3 linked regions of the Homo sapiens genome follow. The protein of the gene in region 2 interacts with the protein of the main gene of each other region in a pairwise test. Each region holds a gene or a part of one and is shown on either strand. Other genes may lie near its edges. The genes, in order: POGZ, MYO1B and SUOX.

Evidence for each region.
Region 1: the proteins of MYO1B (region 2) and POGZ interact in binary tests that used the Homo sapiens proteins (3 or more experiments, as listed by UniProt).
Region 3: the proteins of MYO1B (region 2) and SUOX interact in binary tests that used the Homo sapiens proteins (3 or more experiments, as listed by UniProt).

Annotation. Positions count from the first base shown.
Region 1 is NC_000001.11:151,418,474-151,429,162, forward strand, and holds part of POGZ (pogo transposable element with ZNF domain), read right to left. Parts: intron 9,941-10,689; coding exon 9,650-9,940; intron 9,569-9,649; coding exon 9,350-9,568; intron 6,589-9,349; coding exon 6,482-6,588; intron 5,814-6,481; coding exon 5,476-5,813; intron 5,079-5,475; coding exon 4,924-5,078; intron 1-4,923. UniProt on the Homo sapiens protein: Plays a role in mitotic cell cycle progression and is involved in kinetochore assembly and mitotic sister chromatid cohesion.
Region 2 is NC_000002.12:191,240,006-191,250,851, reverse strand, and holds the start of MYO1B (unconventional myosin-Ib), read right to left. Parts: upstream 5,449-10,846; 5' UTR 5,226-5,448; intron 4,934-5,225; exon of another isoform or gene 4,677-4,933; intron 4,569-4,676; exon of another isoform or gene 4,485-4,568; intron 2,958-4,484; exon of another isoform or gene 2,895-2,957; coding exon of another isoform or gene 2,844-2,894; intron 1-2,843. UniProt on the Homo sapiens protein: Motor protein that may participate in process critical to neuronal development and function such as cell migration, neurite outgrowth and vesicular transport.
Region 3 is NC_000012.12:56,000,276-56,009,714, forward strand, and holds the end of SUOX (sulfite oxidase, mitochondrial), read left to right. Parts: intron 1-1,936; 5' UTR 1,937-1,946; coding exon 1,947-1,996; intron 1,997-2,267; coding exon 2,268-2,445; intron 2,446-3,342; coding exon 3,343-4,752; 3' UTR 4,753-5,250; downstream 5,251-9,439. UniProt on the Homo sapiens protein: Catalyzes the oxidation of sulfite to sulfate, the terminal reaction in the oxidative degradation of sulfur-containing amino acids.

The sequences.
Region 1 (10,689 bases), on a different chromosome or scaffold from region 2:
ACAGGTACAAATATATGGTTTGAAAGAAGAAATAAGACCTAGTAGATCAGTAGGGTGACTATAGTTTACAATAACCTGTTGTAAATTTTAAAATAGCTAGAAGAGAATAATTTGAATGTTTCTAGCATAAACACATAGAGTGATGAATATTCCAAGTACACTGATTTAATATTTACAGATTATATAAATGTATATTAGATTATCACATGCATCCCTAAACCATGTACACCTATTATGCATCAATTCTTTTTTTTGAAAAAGCTACTTTTGGGCTGGGCACGGTGGCTCATGCCTGTAATCCTAGCACTTTGGGAAGCTAAGGTGGGTGGATCACGAGGTCAGGAGTTTGAGACCAGCCTGGCTAACATGCTGAAACCCCGTCTCTACTAAAAATACAAAAAATTAGCCGGGCATGGTGGTGGGCGCCTGTAATCCCAGCTACTTGGGAAGCTGAGGCAGGAGAATCGCTTGAAACCAGAAGGTGGAGGTTGTAGTGAGCTGAGATTGTGCCACCGTACTCCAGCATGGGTGAAAGAATGAAGCTCTGTCTCAAAAAAAAAAAAAAAAAAAAAAGAAAAAAAGAAAAAAAGTTACTTTCGACCGGGCATGCTGGCTCATGCCTATAATCCCAGCACTTTGGGAGGCCGATGCAGGTATATCATTTAAGGCCAGGAGTTTGAGACCAGCCTGAACGACACGGCGAAACCCCATCTCTACTAAAAATAAACAAACAAAAAAATTAACTGGGCATGGTGGCACATGCATGTAATCCCAGGAACTTGGGAGACTGAGGCACAATAATTGCTTGAACCTAGGAGGTAGAGGTTGCAGAGAGCCAAGACTGCGCCACTGCACTCCAGCCTAGGTGACAGAGCGATTGTCTCCCAAAAAAAAAGCTGAGCACGGTGGCTCACACCAGTAATCACAGCACTTTGAGGCTGAGGTGGGTGGATTGCTCGAGCTCAATAATTTGAGACCAGCCTGGGCAGCATGGCAAAACCCTATCTCTACAAAAAACACCCCCCAAAACAAAAAACCCCCCAAAATTAGCTGGGCATAGTGGCATGTGTCTGTAGTACCAGCTATTCAGGAGGCTGAGTTGGGAGGATCATCTTAGCCTGGGAAGTGGAGATTGCAGTAAGCCAAGATTGTGCCACTGCACTCCAGCTTGGCTAACAGAGTGAGACCCTGTCTCAAAAAAAAAAAAAAAAAAAAAAAAAAACTACTTTCATGCCAGATCTGTCAAGGGTGCAAAAAAGGAAATTACGAAAGACTGCAAGAATAAAATTGATATATGCTAAGGAAAGGTGATTTTGGTAAGCATAAAATCTTGTCATAAGAGACTCAAAAATTAAGTCAGGGAAACCAAGAGAAAAAAGATCAATGAGGGTCTACATTGTTTCTTTTCCATAAGGAAAAACTTATCTTCCCTCTGTGTAATTTTATTATTTGTGGAACTTCGGAATAACAAAACCCACCCCCCATATTACGCGTAAAAATGAGTTAGGTGCCCAGACTGGGCAACACAGCAAGACCCTGTCTCTACCCCCAAGAAAAGGAATAAATTAGCTGGGTGTGGTGGCATATGCCTACAGTCCCAGCTACTCAGGAGGCTGAGGTGGGAGGACTGCTTGAGCCCAGGGGTTCGAGGCTGCAGTGAGCTAAGATTGCGTCACTGCACCCCAGCCTGGGTGGCAGAGCAAGACCCTGTTGTCTCAAAAAACTGGTGTTTTCACTAAGAGGTATGGATGAGTTACTCTGGCTTCACATTACTGACAGTGAAGAATCGTGAGTCCTATTCTAGACCAAGCTGGCTACCCTGGCACTACACTGCAGTGTTACCATTGATTCTTTGTTTTTTGAGACAGAGTCTTGCTCTGTTATCCAAGCTGGAGTGCAGTGGCGTGATCATGGTTCACTCTAGCCTTGACCTACTGGGCTCAAGCAATCCTCCCACCTCTACCTCCTGAGTAGCTACGACTATAGGCGTGCGCCACCACACCCAATTTTTGTATTTTTTTTGTAGAGACGGGGTTTCTCCATGCTGCCCAGGCTGGTCTTGAACTCCTAAGCTCAATCTGCCTGCCTCGGCCTCTCAAAGTGCTGAGATTACAGGTGTGAACCACTGCACCTGGCCCGGTTGATTCTAATATACATTCTACTCCCAAATGATTAGTCCAAAGTTTCACTGTCTAATATGGTGGCACCAGCAACATGTATCTAGTGAACACTTAAAATGTGGTAAGCTCAAACCCAATTTAGATTTGTATTTCAAAAGATCTGTTTTTTAATGGAGGAAAAAAGAATGACGAATATCTCATTAATTTTAAATTTTGAGTTCATGTTGAAATATTTTTAATATACTGAATAAAATATGCTGTTAAAATTAATTTTGCCTGTTTTTTTAAACTTTACAGTAGACGCCCTTTGCCAATGGGAAATATACGTTCCAAGACCCCCAGTGCATACATGAAACCTCAGATAGTATTGAACCCTATACATACCGTGTTTTTTCATATATATATATATATATACCTATGATAAAGTTTAATTTATAAATTAGGCAAAGAGATTAACAATTAAAAATATATAATATATAAAAGGATAATTATAACAATATACTGTAATAAAAGTTATGTGAATGTGGTGTCTCTCTCAATAATCTTATTGTACTGCACTCACCTAGTTTTGGACTGTGATTGAGACTAAAATTGAGGATAAGGGAGCGCTACTGTATTTAAAGTGAAAAAAATTAAAATTACTCATGAAGCTTGCATATTTCTACTGCCTAGTGTTACTGTAAGCCATTAATGTCAATCCCACTTCCCTTGCCAATAAATGGTCAGAGATATAAAAGGAAAGCAATTCTCACTCATAAGAAAACAGATTCAAGAAAGAAAAATTGAGGATAAGGGAGCGCTACTGTATTTAAAGTGAAAAAAATTAAAATTACTCATGAAGCTTGCGTATTTCTACTGCCTAGTGTTACTGTAAGCCATTAATGTCAATCCCACTTCCCTTGCCAATAAATGGTCAAAGAGATATAAAAGGAAAGCAATTCTCACTCATAAGAAAACAGATTCAAGAAAGAAAGATGGGAAGATAAGATCTCTTCTTTGTCTAACAATTTTTTATCTGGACATAGTGCCTGACACTTATACAGCCACCCTGCTATGAGCCAGAGACAAGAGAATTGTTGAAAACCAGCAGGGCAGTCAAATTCTAGGCTGAAGCATCCATTTCTGTATCTCTCAGTTAAATGATATAACAGATATTCTTATTGTTTTCTTTTGTTTTGAGACAGAGACTCGCTCTGTCATCCAGGCTGGAGTGCAGTGGTGCGATCTCAGCTCACTGCAACCTCTACCTCCTGGGATCAAGTGATTCTCATGCCTTGGCTTCCTGAGTAGTTGGGATTACCTGCGCACACCACCACAGCCAGCGAATTTTTGTATTTTTAGTAGAGATGTGGTTTTGCCATGTTGGCCAGACTGGTCTCCCCTGGCCTCAACTGATCCACCCACCTAAGCCTCCCAAAGTGCTGGGATTACAGGTGTGAGCCACCACACCCAGTCCTTATTGTTTAATTCATTTTTAGTTAAGGATTTTTACTTGTAGCAAATGCATCCAGATAATATGCATATGTCTTCTATGCTTTTGATCATGCTGTTTTCAATCACCTAAAAGCTTTTCTTACTACTCTCCATCCATCTAAACCTTTCTTAAATTTAAGCACGACTTTCTTGGAAACCTAGCCACAAGGATTTTTTCCCTTCTCTGAAGTATTTCACCTATCAATGATATCTTAAAATGTCTATGTTTATAATATACTATCTTGTTCTCACATTTTCCTATATTTACATAATTTTTGTCTTTACAACAAAACTGGAAATCCCGTAAAGGACATGAGAAGTATTCTCAATACTGGGCTTAAATCCTCACTATGTATCCCCAGTAGAGGTGTATTTAGAGGTGTACGCTCATAAGCAAATGACTCAATTTCTTTGAGCTTATGTTCAGCCTACATCTATCTATAAAATGTACAGTGTAGAAAAACATTCCAGCTTACCTTATATTTCACTGAAAGCACTGTCTTAATGATAAAGTACTTCATAATATTATCTTTTTTTTTTTGGAGATGGAGTTTTGCTCTTGTTGCCCAGACTGGAGTGCAATGGCATGATCTCAGCTCACTGCAACCTCCGCCTCCCGGGTTCAAGCGATTCTCCTGTCTCAGCCTCCCGAGTAGCTGGGATTACAGGTGCCCGCCACCACACCCAGCTAATTTTTGCATTTTTAGTAGAGATGGGGCTTCGCCATGTTGGCCGGGCTGGTCTCGAATTCCTGACTTCAGGTGATCTGCCTGCTTCGGCCTCCCAAAGTGTTGGGATTACAGGCGTGAGCCACCGTGCCCGGCCATATTATCTTTTATCCTACTTAATTTCTTTGAGCTTATGTCCAGCCTACATGTATAAAATATACAGTGTAGAAAACACTCCAGCTCATCTTATATTTCATTGAAAGCAATGTCTTAATGATAAAGTACTTCACAATATTATCTTTTAGCCTACATAAAACCTATCAGGGTTTAACTAAAGTGGAAGAGCAAATAGATGACTGTTCCTTCTATAAAGAGACCTAAGAAATAAATTAATTACATTTGTTTTTCTACAGTGGTTCTGAATCAACGCCCCTAACAATTCAGGATCTAACACTGAACTCAATCCATGCTTGAACAAAATAAAAGTCAGGCTTGTAAAAAAAAACAAGGTGAATGAAGTAAAGAACTGGCTACAAATATGAAAAGTACTTCCTCTACACTGTTACCCACATGTAAATAAATATAATGGGCTCCCCCCAGCGCCATTCAATGAGTGAACAGCAAGGTATATTCCCCTTGAGTTTAAGAGTTTCCAAACTTACTAGTAGATTCATAGGGACTATGAACATTTTCCAAGTGGCACTGAAGCTGGAAGGGAGTGGAAAACTGGCGGTAACAGTGCTGGCAGATAGTGTGACCATCTACCTCACCGTTCTGCTGATCGAGTTCTACGTGGTGTTTCATATGGTTCATGAATCTGTAATAAAGCACAAAGAGAAAGTACAGAAAACATAAAAAATTGGTAGCCTTTTAGAAATATAATGGTAAAATCACAGAACAAACATTATCTGCTCCCCTCCATTCCCCAGACTTCCTGTTTGGGATATCCTTTTCTGAGCCCAGAAAGATAATGAGTTCTTGAAACTAAGAGAGTTCTGGGAAAGGAGACATACTGCTTTCCCTTACTCGATCCAGTTACCTTTTGTTTATTACCACAATATCTCCTTCTATAGTCCTAGTTATTGATTTAATGATAACCCCAGCAAGACTGCATAGTAGTTAGGTCCATTCTCCAAAGAGAAAGACTTAAAATATATAAGAAAATGTAAGTCTTCTCTTGTTCAAGGTAACTTCCAAGGCTCTTAAACACTTACCGAATATTGTTTTTTAGCCTTTTGGTACAATGTGGGCATCGGAAAGATGTGGCGACCTTAGGGAAATTTGTGAGCTGGGCTACTTTGCCACCATCCCGTCCATAGTAGAAGTCATCTACAAGCATAATGAGTTTGGTCTGGACGGCATCGCCCACGTTCTCATTTGGTTCTGGTACTTTGGTAGGCGGTGACAGAGCAGGAATAGGTGTAGAAGAGGGTGTGGAAGCAACAGGAGCTGTTTTCTCAGGGGATGGGGGCTTTGCTGCTGATGGGACACTGGGTTCTGAATCCAGGGACTTTCCTTTCTTCTGGTATTCAACCATTTCTGGGCAACAGTACTATAAAGAAAGACATCTGATCATTCTGGTTATCCTGGGGGCTAGAATGTGCTAACTCCTTAACTTCACTACCATTCCTTGTTAACGGTTTGGTTTCAGGTATTCTCATTCAGCTTTCACCCTTCAGTTTTTTTTAGCGTTTCCAAGTTTTACTCCTTTTCTAGAGTATATCCACATATGCCACCCAAGCGCTATACTTTGTATTTCTCCCTCCTGCCTGTCTTAGGTCCCTTAATCATTAGTATAACTTGGCTCTGAGCTCCCTGGCAAAGAAGAAGTTCCAACCTTTTTATCTGGACTAATACCAAAAAATGAAAAGCTAAAAAATGGAAGTAAGAGCTCCCGATTCATCCAATGACACAATTAACAAAAATGAACTGAGGCCAATATGGTTTGAGTCCTTATTATCTATAAACCTGTTCTCCTGTGTGGTTTCAAAATCTACCACACTAAGAAAGTAAGATCACATATGTTCTGATCTATTTGAGGGTCTTTAAATGTATCCCATCACATTCCAAAGTACACAGCTCTTCTAAAAACAGACCAAGAGAAACAGTAACCCTTTAAAAAGCTTCAGTCATTTTAGAGCCCCTGCTTACAAGCTTCCAATATTAATGAAGGTAAATGGCAGAAGCCACTTAAGCTGGATCACAGGTGATATCACTTACACACATGTGACCTCTCAAAGCTTCAGTAACACGAAATTGAGCATTACATCGTGGACATATTTTCCGTCCACCATCCTGGAGGTCAAATACTGGGATGGAAGAGGTCACTGAAAGAAGTGAGAAGAATTGATAAGATTAATACAATGACACTGGAAAAAGATTACTGACCTTTTGGGAAAAAGTCAAACACTCCCTGAGAAGTATATAAAAGGGTAAGCAAGCATGAGAGATCACTATGGTTTTTGTTTGTTTTTGTTTTTTTTGAGACACGGTCTCTCAGTCTGTTGCCCAGGCTGGAGTGCAGTGGCACGACCACAGCTCACTGCAGCCTTGACCTCCCTGGGCTCAAGATCACTATGTTTGAGGCTTCCTTTTACTGTTCTAACTCTAGGCCAGGGGTCAGCAAACCACAGCACACAGATCAAATCCAGCCCAGCTACCAGTTTCTGTTTGGCCCATAAGCTAAGAATAATTTGTATGTGATTTTTTTGTTAAGGTTTTTGTTTTTTTTAATCTTGCAGAACTGAAGCTATATCCAATAAAAACCTCCTCACCATTCTCCCCTCGCCTCCACCCCGGCAACCACAATTCAACTTTGTCTCTATGAATTTGACTACTCTAGGTACCTCAAGTAAGTGGAATCATATGGTACTTGTCCTTTTGTGACTAGCCTATTTCACTTTAACATAATGTCCTCAAGGTTCAACCATGTTGCAGCACATGTTGTAGCAGAATTTCCTTTCTTAAGCCTGAACAATATACCATTGTATGTGAATACCACATTTTATTTATCCCTTTATCAGTTGATGGACCTCTGTGTTGCTTTCACCTTTCAGCTATTGTGAATAATGTTGCAATGAACATAGGTGTACAAATACCTGTTCTAGTCCCTGCTTTCAATTCTTTTGGGTATAGAATGGAATTCCTGGAGCATACAACAATTCTATCATTTTTAACTTTTTGAGGAACCACCATACTGTTTCCAAAGTGGCTGCATAATTTTACATTTCCACCAACAGTGCGTAAGGGTTCTGCTTTCTCCACATCCTCAACAATATTTGTTATTTTATGGTTCTTTGATAGTAGCCATCCTAATGGGAGTGAGACGGTACCTCATTGTGGTTTTGATTTGCATTTCCATAATGATTAATAACACTGAGCACCTTTTCATGAGCTTATTGGCAATAACTTTCTTTGGAGAAAGGTCTATTCAGTCCTTTGCCTACTTTCCTACTTTTTTTTTTTTTTTTGAGATGGGGTCTTTCTCTGTTGCCCAGACTGGAGTGCAGTGGCACAATCTCGACTCACCACAACCTCTGCCTTCCAGGTTCAAGCAATTCTTGTGTCTCAGCCTCCCGAGCAGCTGGGAATACAGGCACACACCACCACGCCTGGCTAATTTTTGTATTTTTAGTATAGACGGGGTTTCACCATTATTGGTCAGGCTGGTCTTGGACTCCTGACCTCGTGATCCACCTGCCTTGGCCTCTCAAAGTGCTGGGATTACAGGCATGAACCACCACGACCAGCGAGTCCTTTGTCTATTTTTTAAAAAGGTTGTTTGGGAGTTTTTTTGTTGTTGAACTGCACAAATTCTTTATATATTCTGGATATTAACCCCTTATTAGATACATAATTTGCAAATATTTTCTCCCATTCTGTGGCTTCCCTTTTCACTGTGTTGACAACGTCCTGCACAAAAGTTTTAAATTTTGATATAATTTAATTTACTCATTTTTTCTTTTCTTGCGTATGCTTTTGGTGTCATATCCAAGAAATAGTAATCACTGTCAAATCCAGTATCATGAAGCTTTTTGTCCTATAATTTTTCTAAGAGTCTTATAGTTTTAGTTCATTTAGGTCTTTGATCCATTTTGAGTTAATTTTTGTATTTATTGTAAGGTAAGATCCAACTTCTTTTGGACATGGATATCTAGTTTTCCCAACACCATGTTTTAAAGGTTTTTACTTTTTTTGAGACAGGGTGTCGTTCTGTTGCAGTGGCATGCTCATGGCTCACTGCAGGCTCAACCTTCTGGGTTCAAGCCCAAGCCATCCTCTCACCTCAGACTTCTGAGTAGCGAGGACTGCAGACATACACCACCACGCCTGGCTAATCTTTTTTTTTTTTTTTTTTGTAGAGATGGGATCTCACCATGTTGCCCAGGCTGGTCTCAAACTCCTAGGCTCAAGTGATCCTCCCGTCTTGGCCTCCCATAATGCTGGGATGAGGTGTGAGCCACTATACCTTGCGGTTTTTATTTTTAAATGGTTGAAATAAAAGAATAAAACTTTTCGACACATGAAAATTTTATGAAACTTAAATTTCAGAGTCCATAAATAGTTTTTAGTGGAGCACAGCCATGCTCATTCGTTTATGTATCTGTGGCTGCTTCCCCACCACAACAGCACAGTTAATAGCTGCAACAGAGGCTATATATTGTGCACAAAGCCTACAACTTTACTACTAGGCCCTTTACAGAAAACATTTGCCGACCCCTGCTCTAGACCACTGAAAACCCTCATGCTCATCATTCTCAACCTGAAGATCTCTCTACCAAATCCTAACTTTAAAACCTTGCTCAGAAATCCATCTCTTCCATGAAGTTATCTTTCATTATCTCACCCATCTTTAATCAATCAATTTCACTAATCTCCAAAGCACAATTACACACATAATTTCTTGGAGCTGATTCAGTTACACTTTTTGTAAGTGGCTTTCTCCTTACTAAAGTTTCTGTAAGAACAAACTACAGCAGCTGTATTTTATTTTATTTTTCTATTTCTGAGTATAAAGCTCTGATACAACAAACACTTTATTAATGTTTTTGAATGACTGGCTGCTCAGAGTCTTTCAGGTTATTGTACCTTTCATTGAAGACTCAGGTCCGCTGGTTCTTTGAGAGCCATGAGCAGAGCTGTTGTTGGACACCACCACTGGCCCAGGACTCTGGCCCAGGGAAGGGATGGTGTTAAGGGTATTCACCAATTTGGCCACTTCATTGCTATTTTCGCCTGTAACACCAGGTCGCTTCACAGTGACAAAGCTGGCAATGCTCACTGCAGGTGGAGAGGGGAAGGAGGGAGCTACGGTGACCAAGTGATAATCATCTGTTCTCCACCCACCATCCCAACCTGGCTCTGCCATCTCCTCTTCCGAAGCCTTACCTAGCTTGGGATTCGTGGTCTGGTTTGACTGGCCTGGAGACTGAACAGCTAGTTGCCCCAGTGAGGTTGGCTGTGTGGCAGTGGGAGTGGTAGAAGTGCTGGGAGTGGACTTGGTCTGCTGGGACTGGGACTGTGGGACGGTGCTTCGAATGGTAAGAGTGGCCGGGATGACGGTGGTGAAGGTGTTGGTGGTGGGCCTCACAGGCATTGTGGAGCCTGGCCTCACAGGGGTCATCTGGGAGAACACTTGTGGAACTCCAACTGTCGGCTTAACAAACTGGGTACCTGGGGCTTTAAAAGAGAGACAAAGTACCAGATCTTGGTCAGTGAGCTCACCTATAACACATTCTCCCTGCCTTTACTGGAAAGATTATTTCCCCAAACTGATGGATGATCATCAGAGGTTTCCAAGAGGAGTATAGATTCTAAAGACTAAGAAAGCACAAGGTGTCCATGTTGACAAAATAACCTGGGCAGCCTAAAAACATTAAGTTAAATAAGACTCCCATCAACTCCTCCTAAAACACCTTATCACACTGCCTTTTTAATTCTAAGAATACAATCAGTGGCTTGACCTCGGTACTGGAAGAAAAGAGTGGGAAGCAATATGGGTGTATATAGGCCAAATGGCAAACCTGGTCCTGAAAAAAGAAATCAGTCTTTCTCAGAGTACTAAAGGAGTCTTCCATCCTCTTCTATCAACTCAGAAGACAGACTATGCCATTCTACTAGGATGTCCCAAAGAGGAATGTCTCCTGGCTCAACTGTAGACAATTCCACTGAGAAAAATAAAGAAATGCCAGGGTAAGCTGGTCAGACTTAAACCCCTATGGGCTACGAGAACAAAAAACAAAACCTTAGGAAGACAAGCTACAGAGGTACCCTTACAAATAGCTAAATTAAGATACTCTTTTTTGGTCTGAATTGTAGTAAACTTATACATGCTAAATAGAGCAATGGAAAATTCTAAGATTTTAAAAAAATTATCCTTCTCAGAATCTTAAAAAAAAAAAAAACTATCTAGCAGAATCTTAAAAAAA
Region 2 (10,846 bases):
CTCCACAGTACTCATTCAAAGCTTCACAGTACACTCTACCTGGTGGCACTTCGTTGTTCTGGAAAGCAAAGGGGTCTTTGAGGCTTGACCTCTGGGCTAGTGACTCAATTCCCTCATCTACAAATACCTCCTACTAAGGGATAGTGATGAGAAGGAAATCAACCTACAGAAAGTACCCAGCATGAGGCCTAGCACAAAGCAAGCACCCAATACTTAATAAACAGTAGCATGAATAATATCATATAACTCAATGTGAATGACTCATTCTTTGGAGATTTGGCATGTCTTGTCCACAAGAGCCTTTTAAAATGCAAATATGCCTGAAGTCTATTAACAGCCTTAGTTGACAGCCACATTGAACACAGGATGAGGAAGGGATGCTGGCAGGTGTGTAGAGAAGAGAGTTGGCGGAGGTACCAAGGACCTGCCATGCACCAGGGAAGACACTGCTATTCAAACCTTCTCGCATAGAATGGTAGTTTATATATCATTTTTTGGACCTCAGTCAGGGTTCTGAACCTGAACGCTTTCACATCATTGGAGATTGGAGGAAATAAAACCTAAGTCAGAGAAGCTGGCACCTGTGTTCAGTTTTCTTCCACTCTCTTGCTTCTGTTTGTTCTCAGCTTTTGTCTCAAAAGCAAGTGTTCCCCTGGTCTTGGTCACTACAGCTGTCATAGCCATTTTCTTCATTTCACCAACATCCACTCTTGGGATGCATCCACCTGCCCTGCTACAACGACCCTGAAAGCACAATGGATTTCCTTTCTTCCTTTTAAAATGGGTCTAATGCATTGTCTTGCATGACCTGTGTGCTTAATAAAATATGAACTGATGAGGAAGAGGCTGACAACTGCAAAGACCTACCAAAGGCTGTAAGAGTGTAATGCTGGGAAGCATCCTTTTTCCTCCTCTATGCTGCTTATGGTAAGTTGGAAGGTGCTCACCTGTTAGAGTTTAGCAAACCATGTGTCTGCCTCTCCTCCAGAGGCAAAAGTCTAAAATAGCCAGTGGAGGAGAATTTCATAGCCTGAGGAGACTAAAGTTACTCTCACCTATACCACAGAACTTGAAGACCCCAAATGGTGTCCTAGCTTGAAATAAATAAACAAGGCAGAACTTCCAGTCTTCAAATTCTTATCTTAGAAACAACAACAACAACAAAAACCTAATATTGACTTTTCCATTTGCCCAGGAGCATTCTGAGGAATCCACAAACAATCCATGATGCCAAGTGTTAAACTCCAGTCTGCTCCTGTACTTGGTGTCAAAGTCTGGTACCTCTTGCCCAGTGCCACTCTCAGTGCCACCCTAAGGACAGATACCACTGCTATTCCCTTTTCATGCAGATGCCTAAACTAGTTCACTTCCCCTGTGGGGAAGGGATGAGCACAAAAATCATGTGGAATGAGTGTTCCCACAGAGCTCAGAAATTTGATGATCTCAGAGGATACTGTAAAGAAAGACCCTTGACACTTCCCTAAGGAAGAATGCCTTCTGTAAAAGGCTACTGCCAGGACAAAAAGCATGTGCTGGGAAAAATCTATGGCCTGCTGCTGCGAGTGTTTCCAATTCTGATGTCCCACTTCCTCTTTATAAGCACATTCCTTCCCTCCTTATTTCTCTTCTTAAAAAGACACTCTGGCATCGGGTCTCAGTTAAGAAGCAAAGTGCAATGTTCTATTAAAGGCTGTAAGATAAAAAGGGCTTAAAATGGATTTCAATAAACATAAAAGCCTTGAGTGCAATATAAGATCTACTCTGTTCTACCACTTTTAAATGTTTCGAAAAAAGAACTTATTTTTAAATGTTGGCAACCTAACTTTTTAAAAGTAAAGTTTCATTCACTTACAGCTTATTCATACAGGCCATAACATACAGCTCTTTAGCAATACAGTTCTAAGAGTTGTAATGTCCTAACCTGGGCTTCCAAACCTATCTCACAGTGGTTTTTGGAAGAATCAACTACAATAATAGACGTGAAAGTAATTTGACATCTGCCAGGGGCTAACCAACTAGATAATCAAACTGTTGTTATTATTAAAATACATCATACCATACAGTATATACCTAAAGAGTATGGACTTTGGGATCCCCAATCGCACTTCCACCACTTAGTAGTTAGCTACACAAGCACAGAGGGTCCTCAATTTACAATGGTTCAACTTAGGATTTTTTTACTCTATAATGGTGCAAAAATGATAGGCATTCAGTGGAAATCATACTTAGAATTTTGAATTGTGATGTTTTCTGGGGCTAGCCACATGTAGTACGATACCCCATCACAATGCTGGGCAGTGGCAGCGAGCCGCAGCTCCCAGTCAGCTACACCATCACAAGGATGAACAACCAATACTCTACAGTGGACTGTGTTACCAGACGATTTTGCCCAACTGTAGGCTAATGTGACTGTTCTGGACACATTTAAGGTTCGGTAGATTAAGTGTATTAAATGCATTTTCAACTTACAATATTTTCAACTTATGATGGGTTTATCAGGACATAACCCCATTGTAAATCTAGGAGCATCTGTACGGTGTAAGGGGCAAGTTACTTAACTCCTCCAGGCCTCAGTTTCCACTGGAAAATGAAGATAACACCCACTTTATCAAGTTGTTGTGATGATGAATATAGTAATGTATGTAAAATTCTTGGCATGTAATGAACACATACTAAATGATAGCTATAATTATTGTTAGGCTATTTAATTAAAATCCAAATGTTCAGCTATTGAAAACAGTAGAAGGGAGGTAGAAGACAATCTTACCCAAAGGAGGACAAATGCTAAAAACATGGATGCTACATGCTGAAGATCCCTTCTTAGCCAAACACCACCCACTCACCTCACTCCCTCTTCTTCCCCATGATGTCAGACGTTCCTCCTTGCTTTGCATAACTGTGCAGCAATCAGGGTAAGTTAGTCTTTAACTCCAGGCTTGACAAAGTGATGATTCATCCTGGGAAGGGGATACAGCCTGTTGCCAGCCTTATCACACAATCAGGCATCCACCAGAACGGCCAGAGGCCAGAGACCAGAGACCAGCCACTTAGGATTCTGCTATCTGTCCACATCTCCAGTAGCAGCAATGTTCAGATGCTTTACATTTTGTTAATGTATAGAACAATGAGTACTTGAGAGGAATTCAATCGTGTTGTATTTTATAAAACAATTCACAGCATAAGTGAAAAGTCCAAAATGGTAAGACAACAACAACAAAAAGTCTCCCTCTGTTAGCTGCCCTAGCACAACGTTTTGCCAGGCAGTGTGTTAGTTCTAATGACAAACAGCTTGACAGTTGGACACCATCCCATTTCAACTTCACATCATAATGGCTCCTGAGGACAACTCCCAGTGCTTTTCAGCCTGGCCTGAAAATTTGACCACATCCCCCACGAAAAAGACAAACCCTCAGCAGTAGCTTATACAGCTCTTTTCCATTACCACTTAGTGGGCAGGAGATATTTTTTTCCCCCACAGCAAGCTCCTAATTAGCCTTCTAAGGTTAAGAGGCTTTCAAACTTGGTTCATCTCAAAATAAATGGCCAAAGGGGTGGTTTAATGGCGGACCCTCAGCTTGTCAAAGAGGCAGCTCTGGGCCACTTCCCAGCCCTGTCTGCAGCCAGACTACTACAACAGAATGTCTCCTAAATTATCACCACAGTAATGCTAACCTTCAGTCCGACTTTGGGAATCCTCCCACCAGTGTCCCACAGGCACAAACCATGAATGCCTGGAAATGTCAGCCTCCTCCCAAAACAGTTTTGCTTGGAATACCCCATTCAAAAAACACACATCATTCAATCCCCCATAGCTCCCTCCCTAGGTCAGCCAATCCTTTGGCGAGTCTCGATTCCAATCTAGGAAAGGTCACTTAACAAATGTCTGACACATTACATTTAATTCTACCACCTCTAAACGATCCTCACACAGAGAGTGAAAGCACAGAACACTTCAATGCCAGGGCTCCTCAGTTCAAACCCCAAACGCTGGTGTGTGTGGTGTGTTTCCTGGGACAGACTGTAAAAGGGTTTTTCAATTGTGTTACATAGTCTGATTCATTTATTTATAGCAATGTCTAATTTTCTGGTGGTTTCTGCCCTCAAACAGTCCTGGAAAACTGTTGTACTATATTATACTATAAAACAATTTTACGTCAAAATTGATTCTATAAAATTTGTCTCCTACCCATTCCAGCCAATATCCACTAGCTACACACACAGACCCAGAGGCACACACATACACACCAATACCATAGTTCATAGCAAAATTTTTTCAAATCTCAAAAAAAAAGGGGGGGGGGCTTCTTTCACTGTAACTAAGAAGATTTGCTTTGAGCAATCTAACATTGGGAACGCCTAGAAACTCAAGAAGCACACAACTTGTTGCAGCAATAAACGCTGGGCCGAAGCCTGAACAAAGCACTACAAATAAGCTCTAGAAACTCACATGGCCCTTGAACAAAATGTTGTGTGTTTGTAGTTACCTCTCCAGCGCGCTCTCATCACCCTCTCCCAACCCTCTCCCCAACTCTCTTCCCGGCCCCACCACCCTTCGTAGCTCCCGTCTCTAATCTGGTTTCCATTCCAGCCCCGCCCCCTTCCCCTTCCCTCTCTGGGACCGTGAATCAATCCCATCCCGGGCAGGAAACGAGACCCAGGGCAACCCCCTCCGCTGCGGCGGAACAAAGGAGGCGAGCGCAGCTGCACGCGCAGGGAGGCCCACAGCGTCCCGGGCCCCTCCTCCCCCGCCGCCGCCGGGGCACACCGCACCTGAACCCCACTCCCCAGGACGCCCCATTGTTCTCCCTCCGCTTTCCTGCCCGGAGGAAGCCACACCGTGTCTTTCCAGGGGGCCAGGAAACAGCTGTGGGCCAGAGGAATGGAGGGGCTGTGGGTGAACACGAGGACAGCCGAGATTCGACTCTGCCCACAGGTACGAGAGGCATGGGGCAAAGTAAGAGCAACTTAGTTTACAAGCCCTTCTTCCCTCCCGCCACCCCCGAAGCCACTGCGGAGTCACGACCACCCTCCGCAACCTACAGCGTGCGCCGTTCCCGCCGCAGCGCCGCGTCTCCCAAGAGAGCGGCAGAGCCCGCTGACCCCCGCCCGCAGGGTGCGACGGGGCCAGGGACCGCGGGCACAAAGGCGCGGAGCAGGCGCCTCGGGGGCCGACGACGGACGCAGAGGGAAGGGCAGGGGAGAGAGAGAGAAAGCGCTCGCGCTACCTCGCCTGGCGCTACCTCGCCGGGCGCCACTCCGCCTCCACGTCGTCCTCGCTCTCCGGTGGCGCTCCGGGACGCGGGCCCAGCCCGGGGCTGCGGGGCTCCCGCCGCGGCTGTTCTGCCAAGGCTGTCCCGCGGCTGCCGGCCGACTGCGCGCCGCGCGCTCTGGTACTGCCTCCACGCGCCGCGGTTGAGGCTCCCGTGCGCACCCAGCTGCGGAGTGCTCAGCGGCGGCGGGAGGAGCCCGGCCACTCCCCTCTCGCCCGCTGGCGGAGGGGCCGGCCGAGGGGCGGGGGCGGCGACCTCGCTGCCTGGGATTCGCCCCTCGGCGCGCGGGCAGGAACGGGAGCCACCGCCTCCGAGCCGACTCACCTCTGTCCGCCCGGTGCCGGCTTCACAGCGCCCCCCGGTGAGCGTCGCGGCGGCCTCCGCGCCTTGCGGGTTTGCGGCCCGACCCTCCGCACCCGGGGCGAGCCTGGATGGGACGAGGCTTGAGGGAAGGAGGGGCGATCGTCGCGGCCCCCACGGAAGGCAGTCTTTCTACCTTTTTTGCTTCCAGACTCACTGACATAAAATGAGAAATACAACATTTGACAACTCGAAGCCAGCCTGGGGTCACATTCCGGCAAACAGTGGGAGTAAGTCTCAATTTTTCCTCCTCCCCAAGATGAAAATTTTTGGATGCCGAGAATATCAGAAAATATTAGTTTCACAGAAAAAGAAAAAAATTATACTGAGTGGTGTGGTGTGTCTTCATTTACAAGACTTTTAGTATCTTTTAAATTACTTAATCTCACATTGTGGGAAATAGACACTGGCCAATTCTTTGTGTTATAAATACATGAGAGGTAGTTTAAAAGAAATTTCAAATACCCATACGTATTTGAATAGAGTGTATTAACAGGTCCTGAGTAATGATCAGTGATGGGGTATATTATACAGGCATGTAGGGGCCAGAGAATCAGGACACCCCCCCTACACACACACACACACCTTCTCACTCAAGCCCTATTGCCTCATTGGAGAATTTAGAACAATCCTCTTGACCCAGGTCCTGGTTTCTTCATCCTCGCACAGGGAAGGGTGCGCATTCAAACTTACTCACTGGGTGAGATGAGGATTACTTGGCTGAGGTGTTAAAAGCACTGTAGACACAGTAATTATTACTCATGGTTCTAACTACTTTATCCTATAATGAAATAAATTGCCATAAATGGGCCAGGTTTAAATGGACTGACCTGTATCTGGAAACTGTCACTAAAGTGAGGTGAACCAAAGAATTCAGACCATATATAGTAACTGTTCCCACTGGCATAAGAACCACAGGCGCTGGGATTTGTTAAATGCCACTAGTAGAGTTTGGAAAGGTGGGACCTTCACAGACTATATCTGCTGGGAACTGTCTCATCATTGATGTCACCATCAGCATCACTTCAGATGTACAAGTGGTGTGATAATGGGCGAAACTAACACATACTGGGTACCAGGGACTGTTCTTTGTTTAATCCTCACAAAAAGCTCTGAGGTAAGTTTCTCTCATTATCCTTGTTTTACAGACCAGCAAAGCCAAGGACAGAGAGGTCTTCAGGGAATACATGGCTATGGTGGTTTGAAGACTCCCATTAGAGAGTGGATATTAATTGCCCTCCTTTTGAATATGGTCTGGACTTAGTGATTTGATTGTAACAAATAGAATACAGCAGATGTGATGCTATGTGACTTCCAAACCTAGGTCATAAAAGGAGATGAAGTTTTCACCTGGCTCTCCCTTGGGACACTCACCCTTGGAACCCAGCTGCCATATTGTGAGGAAGCTCAAGCCACAGGGAAGGCCATGTGTAGGTGTTTGGGCTGATGGTGCCAGCTGAGGACCTGGTCTACTGCCAGTACAACTTATATCAAGCATGTGAGTTGGCGAGCTTTTGAAAGAACTCCAGCCACAGTCACTGACCACGCTGCCTGAGAGACCTAGAGAGAAAACCTAGCTGAGCCAAATCAGGCCCCGGAAACGTAAGTGATAATAATAAAAGATTGTCATCTGGGTGGTTGTTACATAGCAATAGACACCTAGAACAGTGACAGAGCTGGAATTTGAACCCAGATAGTCTGACTCTATAGTCTTCACTATCAAGCACACTACCTCAGACCTTGATAACCTAGCATAATGAAAACCCTGGAGATCCCAGCCTTCACAATAGGCAACATATGAACCTGCTACCTGGTGACGTGTGTTAGACTCACTTCTCCATTTTGCTTGTCTGAGTTTAGGTTCCCAAGTGACTGCTTATAGCAGTTTGGCAGTTCATGGAACTTCTGACCTCTACTGTCCAGTTCAGCTTTTCAAAAATAGCAGAAATGCAGATGGCAGGTTCATGAATATAAGATGTATACAAATTGAAGAGTGGGGGAATTCTATAAACTTTTGATCTTGGAAGGTGGCCAGATTTTAGAAAAAGTAGGTTTGAGACAACTATGTGCTGAGTAGGTCTATCAAAATAGCTAGCTACTAGAAGTAAAGTTTTGAAACTCCTGACTCAAGAAAGGGATAGGACACAGTTATGTCAGAACAGTTCGGCCTCTAGAAGGACCTCGCATAGTGAGGACAATTAAGACTTTCTCCATGATTTTAGCAAGTTCAAAAAAGAAAATAATAGAAACTGTAGAACTTATCCTAATAAACACTAAGAAAATGAACCAAGTTATTAGCCAAAAATATTTCTAGAGAAAAATCATGCTTCTCTTTTAAAAATACTGTTTACCTAGTTTTCATAAATCTCAAAACCCAAGTTTCTGAGGACATACAGGTTTTAAAACACTTTTACCTTCCTGGCCATTTTTTTCAAAAACCAATCAATCAACAACTTTTGAAATTATAAAAAGCAGATTAAAGTTATTCCCACAATTGTCAAGAATAGATAATAGGCTGGGCGCAGTGGCTCACACCTGTAATCCCAGCACTTTGGGAGGCTGTGGCAGGCGGATCATGACGTCAGGAGTTCGAGACCAGCCTGGCCAATATGGTGAAATCCCATCTCTACTAAAAATACAAAAATTAGCCAGGCGTGGTGGCACGCTCCTGTAGTCCCAGCTACTCAGGAGGCTGAGGCAGAAGAATCACTTGAACCCAGGAGGTGGAGGTTGCAGTGAGCCAAGATCACGCCAGTGTACTCCAGCCTGGGTGACAGAGCGAGAGTCCATCTCAAAAAAAAAAAAAAAAAAGAATAGATAATAAATCCATCAACTACAAAGGCATTTTTTACTTTCTCCTCAATCTATTTGGAGGAAACAGAAAGAAATAAAAAGAAGTAGAAAACTATTATTGAGATTTAGGGTGAAAAACATAAATTATCAAATTACAAGAGTGCAATAAAAGAATACAAGAAGTGTGCTTTGCCTCAATGGAAACATGCAACAATTTAAATTCATTCAATTGAAATCTTGCCATCCTTGTGGAAAATACAGAAGTAAAAGCATATCTCTATGTATCCCAGGAAGGTAATTACCACTAGGCATGTAAGACTTATTTTTTCTTAGTTGGTTTTACTTGAGCCCTTTCAAGAAAATTAAAAGGAGTTCAACATTGACAAGAAGACTGACGAAAGAACCATATGACTGCCTTTTGGTGTAGCAAACATAAAAGTGGACTGGAAGTCATACTTTTAGATTTTCTCACTGGCTCTGTCTTCATTCAACTAAGTTTATGAAGCGGCTCATACTGTTTGTCCTTAGGTATTTTACATCATGTTGAATGTGTTAAAGACTCTATCTTTAAAATTCTCAGTCTTTGTTTTTGCTATATTTTGTCTCTCATCTACCCACCCAAACAGTTTTCACCTGCTTTACTTATCTTTTTTTAAAAAATAAAATAAAGACAGGATCTCGCTCTGTCACCCAGGCTGGAGTGCAGTGGCACAATCACAGCTCACTGTAACCTTGAACTCTTGAACTCAAACAATCCTCCCACAATCCTCCTGCCTCAGCTTCCCAAGCAGCCGGGACTACAGGTGCATGTTACCATACCCGACTAATTTCTTTGTATTTTTTGTAGAGATAGGAGTCCCACTATTGTTCCCCAGGCTGGCCTTGAGCCCCTGGCCTCAAGTGATACTCCTGTCTTGGCCTCCCAAAGCACTAGGATCACAGGTGTGGGTCACTATTCCCAGGCATTACTTATCCTTTCAAACTAAATTCGGTTTTCACCTATTCCTGACCATCATCTTGAATTAGATTCTGCTTTCTTTCGTATGGTAGCATCTGAATGCCACATCCTCTCAGTACCTATTAATTTGCCCCAGGTCATGAAATCTTTTTATTCATCCTCTTCTGGATGTTTGACTTCTCCAACTAGATAGTAGGCCTCGAGATAAAACTAGTCAATCAGTTCGAAAACACCAGGACTGAGATAACATCAGTTTTAGAGAGCTGACTATCCTAGGAAATATTCTAAATGCTCTACATATGTGTTAACTCGTTGAAGCTGCACAGCAGCCCAACGAGGTAGGTTATATTATAATCCCATTTTAGAGATGGTGAAGCTGAGGCAGGCAACTTACGCTGAGTGTGGCTGCCTCTCCTGCCTCCTTTCCACCTCCTCCACCTCTTCCACCTCTGCTACCCCTGAGACAGCAAGACCCACTCCTCCTTTTCCTCCTCCTCTTCAGCCTACTCAGCATGAAGAGGATGAGGATGAAGACTTTGATGATCCATTTCCACTTAATGAGTAGCAAATATATTTTCTCTTATGATTTTCTTAATAACATTTCCTTTTTCTCTAACTTACTTTTTTTGTAAGAATACAATATATGATACAATATAAAATATGTGTTAATAGACCATTTATGTTATCCATAAGGCTGATATGTCAACAGTAGGCTATTACTAGTTAAATTTTGGGGAGTCAAAAGTTATACGTGAATTTTTGACTACATGGAGGGTCAGCGTCCCTAATCTCCAAGTTGTTCAAGGGTCAAGTGTACTGTATTATTTCTTTAGCATATGTCTCTTAGTTTAGGATAGTCCTCCAAATGCAGTAAGCACTGAGTTAGCTATTTCTTAAATAGCTTCATACAAAATAAAATATTTTAAAATATATTTAAAGAGTGCTTTAAAAATAAGTGCTTCATGTTTAAAGTATTATTTGAAATTCAGATTAGGTATTACAAAAAAAAATGTTTCTATAGCATTGTCGGTGTCCAAAACTCAATGGTAAAAACACAACTCTTATTCTAAGTATTTAACAAACTATAGATAAATTACATCAAGAATATTTGAAGGTAAAAAGACCGATGGAACTTATCCCAGGCAGGGAGAAAATTTACTAAAGCTATTTGAGGATAAAAAGAGTAATTTGAAAAGCTCACAAATAGGGTCCCTTTTAGGTACTGTACTAGACTATTTGAAAATCAAAAACAATTCTTTATTTTAAAAAAATGTAATTTGAGCACTAAAATCAGGCAGTGAAAAAGTATAATTTTTCTCCACAAAATGCATTTCTCTACAGCTCAGAGTACTCTGAGCCACAAATAAATTATAGACCCATTGCCAGGAAATTTAAATTGCCTAAATTTTTTCCCTTGACATTTTATAATTTAGCATTCTGTCATTTCAACTAGTAAAATAGTTGT
Region 3 (9,439 bases), on a different chromosome or scaffold from region 2:
CGAGCCCTGCCCCGCGGGGAGGCAGCTAAGGCCCGGCGAGAAATCGAGCGCAGCGCTGGTGGGCCGGCACTGCTGGGGGACCCAGTACACCCTCCGCAGCTGCTGGCCCAGGTGGTAAGCCCCTCATTGCCCGGGGCCGGCAGGGCCAGCCGGCTGCTCCGTGTGCGGGGCCTGCCAAGCCCACGCCCACCCGGAACTCCAGCTGGCCCGCAAGCTCCGCGCTCAGCCCCGGTTCCCGCTCGCACCTCTCCCTCCACACCTCCCTGCAAGCTGAGGGAGCCGACTCTGGCCTTGGCCAGCCCAGAAAGGGGCTCCCACAGTGCAGCGGCGAGCTGAAGGGCTCCTCAAGTGCCGCCAAAGTGGGAGCCCAGGCAGAGGAGGCACCGAGAGTGAGCAAGGGCTGTGAGGACTGCCAGCACAATGTCACTTCTCACTAGGATTATAAGGGTGAGCCACCACACCCAGCTCTTTTATTACAGTATAATGTTATAATTTTTTTCTTTTTCTTTGTTTTTTTTTTGAGACGTTTGAGACGGAGTCTCACTCTGTCGCCCAGGCTGGAGTGCAGTGGCGCGATCTCGGCTCACTGCAACCTCCGCCTCCTGGGTTCACGCCATTCTCCTGTCTCCGGAGTAGCAGGGACTACAGGCGCCCGCCGCCAAGCCCGGCTAATTTTTTTTTTTCTATTTTTAGTAGAGATGAGGTTTCGCCGCGTTAGCCAGGATGGTTTCGATCTCCTGACATCGTGATCTGCCCGTCTCAGCCTCCCAAAGTGCTGGGATTACAGGCGTAAGCCACTGCGCCGGGCTAATTTTTCTATTTTGTTATTGTTGTTAATCTCTCTTTTTTTTTTTTTTTTTTTTTTTTGAGATGGAGTCTCTCTCTGTTGCCCAGACTGGAGAGCAGTGGCGTGATCTCAGCTCACTGCAACCTCCACCTCCCAGGTTCAGGTGATTCTCCTGCCTCAGCCTCCCGAGTAGCTGGGGTTACAGGCACGTGTCACCATGCCTGGCTTATTTTTGAATTTTTGTAGAGACAGGTTTTCCCCATTTTGGCCAGGCTGGTCTCAAACTCCTGACCTCAGGTGATTTGCCCGCCTCAGCCTCCCAAAGTGCTGGGATTACAGACGTGAGCCACTGCGCCGGGCATTGTTGTTAATCTCTTACTGTGGGTAATTTAGTAATTAAACTATAAGAGGTATGTATGTATGGGGGAAAAAACAGTAATATAGGGTTTGGTGCAATCTGTGGTTTCAAACATCTACTGGGGGTCGTAGAACATATCCCCAGTGGATAAGGGGGTACTACTGTACTTGTTGGCTCTTCATGTTAGCTCTGCTAGGCAGATGTCATTTCAGAGATGAGGAAGCAAGTTCAGAACGGCTTGGAATCTTGCTCAGGAAATCGGGCTGGTTAATGAATAACAAGAGATCCAGTTTCACAAACCCAAGGCATTTTGCCCCCAGAATCTGGGCTTCTTCACCCATTTAGGCTGTCACTACTTTTTTTTCACTTTTTTATCCCTGTTTAAGTCAGTCTGACCCACAGTTGTCCTCTGCTGACTTCAGAAATAATAATCTGGCCAGTAGACATTTGGTTTCGGTCCTTTAGGCCCTTCGCCCCAGGCATCGTTCTCTATGGTGGACAAAGTTCAGAATGGAAGATGGGAGAAAGGTGATTCTGATTCTAGAAGCACCCATCCCTCCTACCCCATTCCCCACCCGCATTACCTGCCATCCTGTCAGCACAGTCTGTCTCTGAAGTGCTCCAAGTTTTCTCTAAGGGCCCATTTGGACTCCCACTCTCAAGACTCCTCACTTGCCCAGAAAGCTCCTTGCTGACCTTCTCTGTGTCTTCCTCTCACCCATTCCCTTAGGCCTCCCTAATATCCCCTCCCAGGGTCTCCCTATCTTGATCCCAGAATCTTCCTTCTACAGGTCTGCTACAATGCTGCTGCTGCACAGAGCTGTGGTCCTCAGGCTCCAACAGGCCTGCAGGTAGGCCAGCCCATCCCAGGACTTGCCTCCTAGCCCCTATCTGCCACCCTTAGTGTCTTTTACAATGTCATACCTTGCAAATAAGACAGTTGAGAGAGTGTGTCCAGGGAGGACAGAGAAAGCCAGATCCCACTTTTCCCACCTATCCCTGGAGAAACTAAGTTCCAACTTAAGGAACCAATGGCCAACCAGGGAGAAAGAAGTAGACCCCAAGCCTTCACTAGCCCTTTCACATGACCATACGTGCTACTAAGACCGACCTCTCTTCCAGACTCAAGTCAATCCCCTCAAGGATCTGCATTCAGGCCTGCTCCACAAATGATTCATTTCAGCCCCAGCGCCCCAGCCTCACCTTCTCTGGTGATAACTCCAGCACCCAGGGATGGAGAGTCATGGGGACCCTATTAGGTCTCGGTGCAGTGTTGGCCTATCAGGACCATCGGTGTAGGGTAAGTAGGGAAAGTGCTTCATTGTCAGAACAGACTGGGTGCAGTGGCTCACGCCTGTTATCCCAGCACTATAGGAGGCCAAGGTGGGTGGGTCACTTGAGGTTAGGAGTTTGAGACCAGCCTGGGCAACATGGCAAAACCCCATCTCTAGTAAAAATTAGCCAGGTGTGGTGGTACATACCTGTAATCTCAGCTACTTGAGAGGCTGAGACACAAGAATCACTTAAACCCAGGAGGCTAAGTCTGCAGTGAGCCAAGATCAAGATCAGGCCACTGCTCTCCAGCCTGGGTGACAGAGTGAGACTCCATCTCAAAAAAAAAAAAAAAATTGTCAGAATAAAGGAATCAGTCCTAGTAAACTCCACAGGCAACCCAGGCTGTGACCCATGTTCTTGTAGTTACCACAGAGTTCACAGTGACGCAGTCTTCATGCACAGTGGAGATGAAATCTGCTAATCTGCTACCTTCGCTTCCCAGTGGCCAACACCGTGGGTTGGGTCAGGGTGAGCTCAAGTGATTTCTTCTTATTCTTCTTCATTTTTTCTTTTTTTTTTTTTTGAGATGGAGTTTCACTCTTGTTGCCCAGGCTGGAGTGCAATGGCATGATCTCAGCTCACCACAACCTCCACCTCCCGGGTTCAAGTGATTCTCCTGCCTCAGCCTCCCAAGTAGCTGGGATTACAGGCATGCACCACCATGCCCAGCTAATTTTGTATTTTTAGTAGAGACAGGGCTTCTCCATGTTGGTCAAGCTGGTCTTGAACTCCCGACCTTATGTGATCCGCCCACCTCGGCCTCCCAAAGTGCTGGGATTACAGTTGTGAGTCACCACGCCCGACCAAGTGATTTCTTCTTAATAGTCTCTTCCCTTTTATCTTACTCCTTCCCTGCCAATAGGCTGCTCAGGAGTCAACACACATATACACTAAGGAGGAAGTGAGTTCCCACACCAGCCCTGAGACTGGGATCTGGGTGACTCTGGGCTCTGAGGTCTTTGATGTCACAGAATTTGTGGACCTACATCCAGGGGGGCCTTCAAAGCTGATGCTAGCAGCTGGGGGTCCCCTAGAGCCCTTCTGGGCCCTCTATGCTGTTCACAACCAGTCCCATGTGCGTGAGTTACTGGCTCAGTACAAGATTGGGGAGCTGAATCCTGAAGACAAGGTAGCCCCCACCGTGGAGACCTCTGACCCTTATGCTGATGATCCTGTACGTCACCCAGCCCTGAAGGTCAACAGCCAGCGGCCCTTTAATGCAGAGCCTCCCCCTGAGCTGCTGACAGAAAACTACATCACACCCAACCCTATCTTCTTCACCCGGAACCATCTGCCTGTACCTAACCTGGATCCAGACACCTATCGCTTACACGTAGTAGGAGCACCTGGGGGTCAGTCACTGTCTCTTTCCCTGGATGACTTGCACAACTTTCCCAGGTACGAGATCACAGTCACTCTGCAGTGTGCCGGCAACCGACGCTCTGAGATGACTCAGGTCAAAGAAGTAAAAGGTCTGGAGTGGAGAACAGGAGCCATCAGCACTGCACGCTGGGCTGGGGCACGGCTCTGTGATGTGTTAGCCCAGGCTGGCCACCAACTCTGTGAAACTGAGGCCCACGTCTGCTTTGAGGGACTGGACTCAGACCCTACTGGGACTGCCTATGGAGCATCCATCCCTCTGGCTCGGGCCATGGACCCTGAAGCTGAGGTCCTGCTGGCATATGAGATGAATGGGCAGCCTCTGCCACGTGACCACGGCTTCCCTGTGCGTGTGGTGGTTCCTGGAGTGGTGGGTGCCCGCCATGTCAAATGGCTGGGCAGAGTGAGTGTGCAGCCAGAGGAAAGTTACAGCCACTGGCAACGGCGGGATTACAAAGGCTTCTCTCCATCTGTGGACTGGGAGACTGTAGATTTTGACTCTGCTCCATCCATTCAGGAACTTCCTGTCCAGTCGGCCATCACAGAGCCCCGGGATGGAGAGACTGTAGAATCAGGGGAGGTGACCATCAAGGGCTATGCATGGAGTGGTGGTGGCAGGGCTGTGATCCGGGTGGATGTGTCTCTGGATGGGGGCCTAACCTGGCAGGTGGCTAAGCTGGATGGAGAGGAACAGCGCCCCAGGAAGGCCTGGGCATGGCGTCTGTGGCAGTTGAAAGCCCCTGTGCCAGCTGGACAAAAGGAACTGAACATTGTTTGTAAGGCTGTGGATGATGGTTACAATGTGCAGCCAGACACCGTGGCCCCAATCTGGAACCTGCGAGGTGTTCTCAGCAATGCCTGGCATCGTGTCCATGTCTATGTCTCCCCATGAGCATGGAAAGGAGCCACCTCCACCCCTTTCCCCACCCATTAGCCTCACTGCTTCAGAAAAATCTTTCCCACCTTTCAACTTCTTGGATCACAACTCTGGCCTTCCTAAGCCATACCCAAGTACACATATAGCACATTTCACCCAAGGACCTTCCCTCTTTGGACACTATGTTACATACCCCTCTTGGCCTTTGAACCTGTGCCAGGAAGTGTGAGCTGTTACAGCAAGGGGCTAGAAGTGAAAAAAGTAATTCTGGAGACAAGCACTATTTTCTCTTCCTACCCCACCTCCATTTCTAATGCCTACTGCCATCAAGGCCTTGTTTTGCTTTTCTTTTTGGATTGTTCAGAGAAATGTGTGTGGCATGTGTAAGAAAAGTGTATATACTATCTTATACTACCTCTCCAGGTTGCCAGAGAGTTGCGAGGAGAGCAAGGGGCACAACCGTCTCCCTTTATAGTTCTACTTTTCTAATAAATAGTCTGTTTAAGATCATAACTCTTGGGCCTGGGGAGTGAGCCTATTGCAGGAGGAAGGATGCATTTGTACTGGGATGTATAATGAGATTAGACCAAAACAAACAAAACTGGGGAGGAAGACAGAGAGGAAGTAGGCTTGTAGGTTAAGAAGTAGGGCTTCCGGCTGAGCACAGTGGCTCACGCCTGTAATCCCAGCACTTGGGAGGCCAAGGCAGGTGGATCACTTGAGGTCAGGAGTTCGAGACCAGCCTGGCCAACATGGCAAAACCCAGTCTCTACCAAAAATACAAAAATTAGCTGGGTGTGGTGGTGGGTGCCTGTAATCCCAGCTACTTGGGAGGCTGAGGCAGGAGAATCGCTTGAACCAAGGAGGCAGAGGTTGCAGTGAGCCGAGATCACACCCACTACACCCCAGCCTGTGCGACAAAGCGAGATTCTGTCTCAAAAAAAGGGGGGCTTCCTTCTCTGAGGTTTGGCAGTATCTGCAGGGACACCTAGGTGATTGACCTCAGGATACCATGAAGAGAGGAGAGGTGACAAAAACATGTACCCTCCAACTCCTTTCCCCAACAGTTCCAATGCACTTGGCAGGAAAGGCAAAGGGTGCTAGGAGTTTAAAATCAATATTGTCTTAGGAGGTCGTGAAAGCAAAATAAATCTTGAGGCCCCAGAATCACTAAGCTAAAGGGAAAAGTCAAGCTGGGAACTGATTAGGGTAAACCTGCCTCCCATTCAAAGTCATCCCTCTGCTCACTGAGATAAATGCATACCTGATTGCCTTCTTTGAGTGGAATACAACCATTTGCCTCTTTTTTTTTTTTTTTTTTTGTAGAGACAGAGTCTTGCTCTGTCACCCAGACTGGAGTGCAGGAGTGCGGTGGCACGATCTCCGCTCACTGCAACCTCCGTCTCCGGAGTTCAAGCAATTCTGTCTCAGCCTCCCAGGTAGCTGGGACGACAGGCGCACACCGCCACGCCCGGCTAATTTCTTTTGTATTTTAGTAGAGATGGGTTTCACCATGTTGCCCAGGCTGGTCTCGAACTCCTGAGCTCAGGCAGTACGTCTGCCTCGGCCTCCCAAAGTGCTAGGATTACAGGCGTGAGCCACCAAGCCCGGCTTTTTTTTTTTTTTTTTTTTTTTTTTGAGATGAAGTCTCACTCTATTGCTCAGGCTGGAGTGCAGTGGTGCGATCTCGGCTCACTGCAACCTCCGCCTCCCGGGTTCAAGCGATTCTCCTGCCTCAGCCTCCCAAGTAGCTGGGACTACAGGCGCGGGCCACCACACCCGGCTAATTTTTTATTTTTAGTAGAGATGGGGTTTCACCATGTTGGCCAGGCTGGTCTTGAACTCCTGACCTCAGGTGATCCGCCCGCCTCGGCCTCCCAAAGTGCTGGGATTACAGGCGTGAGCCACTGCGCCCCGCTCCATTTACCTCTTATCTACCTATGACCTGGAAGCCTCCTCCCAGCTTGAGTTGTCCCGCCTTTACATATATTGATTGATGTCTCTTGTCTCCCTAAAATGTATAACACCAAGCTGTGCTCCAGTCACCTAGGGCACATGTCGTCAGGACCTCCTGAGGCTGCGTTACGGGCGTGCGTCCCTAACTTTGGCAAAATTAAGTTTTGCCAAAAACTTCCTAAACTGAGACCTGTCTCAGATTTTTGGGATTCACAAGGTACAGAGGGAAAACTTGGCTCTAGGGCCTGACGTGCCAGGCCACATCGGGCGTCCAGCGTGTGCTTAGATTGCAAACTGGGTGCAGATTAAAGGCTAGTTTTTGGGTTACCTTCGGCAGACGATGGTGCCTTTCGGATTTGAATCTTTCGGCGCTCGGCTACTCTCCCCTAGCTCCTCTCCCATTTTCCCCCAGCAGTCTCCCGGGCTTGGGGACGCTCGGTGTTCGGCCACGCCGCCTGTCGCCTGGTAGTGGGACCGGAAGTTGTTAGGGGGAGGGGGACGGCTGTGATGGGGGGGGATATTTGGGGGGGCAAGTCCCTTCTCAGGTGAAGCTGCTGATGGAGATGGAGCCGCCGCCACCGCCGCCTCTGAGCGCCCGGGTCCTGGCTCCGGCCCGGCGACTGCCGCCGCCTCAGTGACCCCACTCCCCCCGCACTGGGCCGCCCGGGCCAGAGTGGGGGACCCCCGCCCCCTCGCCTCCCTCTCCCCCAACACTGTCCCCTCTCCCCAACCCCTCACAGCCTGCGCGCGCGCGGAGACACCTCAGGTGAGTGAGGGGCGGGGCTTGGTGGGGGTAAAGCGGGGGCGGGGCCTCGGTAGCCGGGGGCGGGGCCTGAGGGGCTCTGGCGTGAAGGAGGGGGGAGACGTGGGCGGGGGAAGGGGCCAGGCTGAGAGAGGGTCGCGGGTTGGGCTGGGGCCGGAGGGTTGGAAGATGGCCGGGGGAGTTTGGCCCGAGGCCCCAGTATTAAGAGCGAGGTAGCAGGGACTCGGGGGTCCTAAAAAGGCGGGAGACAGATCAAGGCAAGGGGCCGAGGACAGGCAGGAGCTGCCAGGCGCGGGGCTCCTCCGTGGGGATGTGGCTTGGGTATACAGCAGAAGGACAGCGAGGAGAAAGGAGCAGCAAAGAGGGTATCTGAACAAAAAAAGCGAGGGACCCGGGTGTTGGGTCGAGGAATGCTGAAGACAGGAATCTGGGGATAAAGACGTAGGCCTAGGTGAGATCTGGGAGGCAATGAGCATATTGGGAGAAACATGTAGAGAAGAAACTTAGGATGGAGTGAGAAGTGCACAGTGTAGGGTGAGAGGTGTAGGGAACTTGGGAAGCAAGGCTGGGAAAGAAGAGATTCACTGCTTGAGAGCCCTAAGAAAGAAATGCAACAGAGGAATCCCCAGGGCAGACATCCAGACGGGAGCTGCAAACTTGGGAAGCAGGCTGCCTGCTCCTGTGTACCAAAACAGCCCTCCCTGTACCTCCTCACACAAACCCCATCCCGTTATTTTCTTACCTCATGGCTGCTAGAGTTGTAGGTTCTCACTTTTTAAATTTTCTATATTATTTCTGTGCCTTTAAAAAAAATTATGACTAGTCCTTTCTGGGAACAGTGGAGTGTTTAATGGAACGTGGACCTTTCGATATGCTTATGAAATATTGTACCCCAATCCCCATCCAAGGTCAAGAAGTTACGAACTCTGCTTCCAGGAAATTTTTTTTTTTTTTTTTTTTGAGACGGAGTTTCACTCTTGTTGCCCAGGCTGGGGTGCAATGGCGCGACCTCAGCTCACTGCAACCTCCATCTCCCAGGTTCAAGAGATTCTCCTGCCTCAGCCTCCCAAGTAGCTGGGATTACAGGCACCCGCCACCACCCCTGGCTAATTTTTTGTATTTTTAGTAGAGATGGGGGTCTCACCATGTTGGCCAGGCTGGTCTTGAACTCCTGACCTCAGGTGATCCACCCGCCTCAGCCTCCCAAAGTGCTGGGATTACAGGCATGAGCCACCGTGCCTGGCCAGAAAATTTTTTGCATACCTTATTTCGCCCCATTCCCTTCTCTCATGAACAAAACTGTCTATTGTTGTTACTCTTGTCAACCCTCGCTTATATGTCTAATAGTTCCTACTGTGCCTGTCTCCCCAGCCTGTGCCCTCGAAGCATCAATGGTGGGCATGGTATGTTCCTGACATGCTCACATGTCAGCTTTAGATGTTCCAACGTCATGGTCAACCAGATGACCATTGAAGCCTGTCTCCCCTTACTGATACTTGCTCACTTTGCCTGGGTGAAGATACATGTTCATATCCTTAAGGAAGCATGAAAATGTTATCTGACTACCTAGAATATTTCCACTTAACGATAACTCAGATTCTGAGGACAAGGCCAGATAAAAGGCCAAATCAGACAATCTTTGAAAGCATAGTGTTTCGTTTGGTTGGGGTGTATGGTAATCCCTCACCTCCCCATGGACCTGCCAGTAGGTCCGTGAATCTTGCTTTATGGTTTGCAGGAGGACTTCAGCTTTCCCTACTAACAGCCTAAAGCCAGAGAATCCAGACAGACCCTTGGGTCATGAGAACAGTCAGATGAGTAGCTCCTGAGATAAAAATAAAATCTTAAAAGAAGAAAATAGCTTTACCATTGGGAAGCAAGAGAAGTTTCACTGGAGCTTCTGGGGTGGGCTTCAGAATGGTGAGAGCTGCCCTCATTTTGGCAGCTTCAGAATTATACCTTGCCCTAGTCAATAGAAGTTGA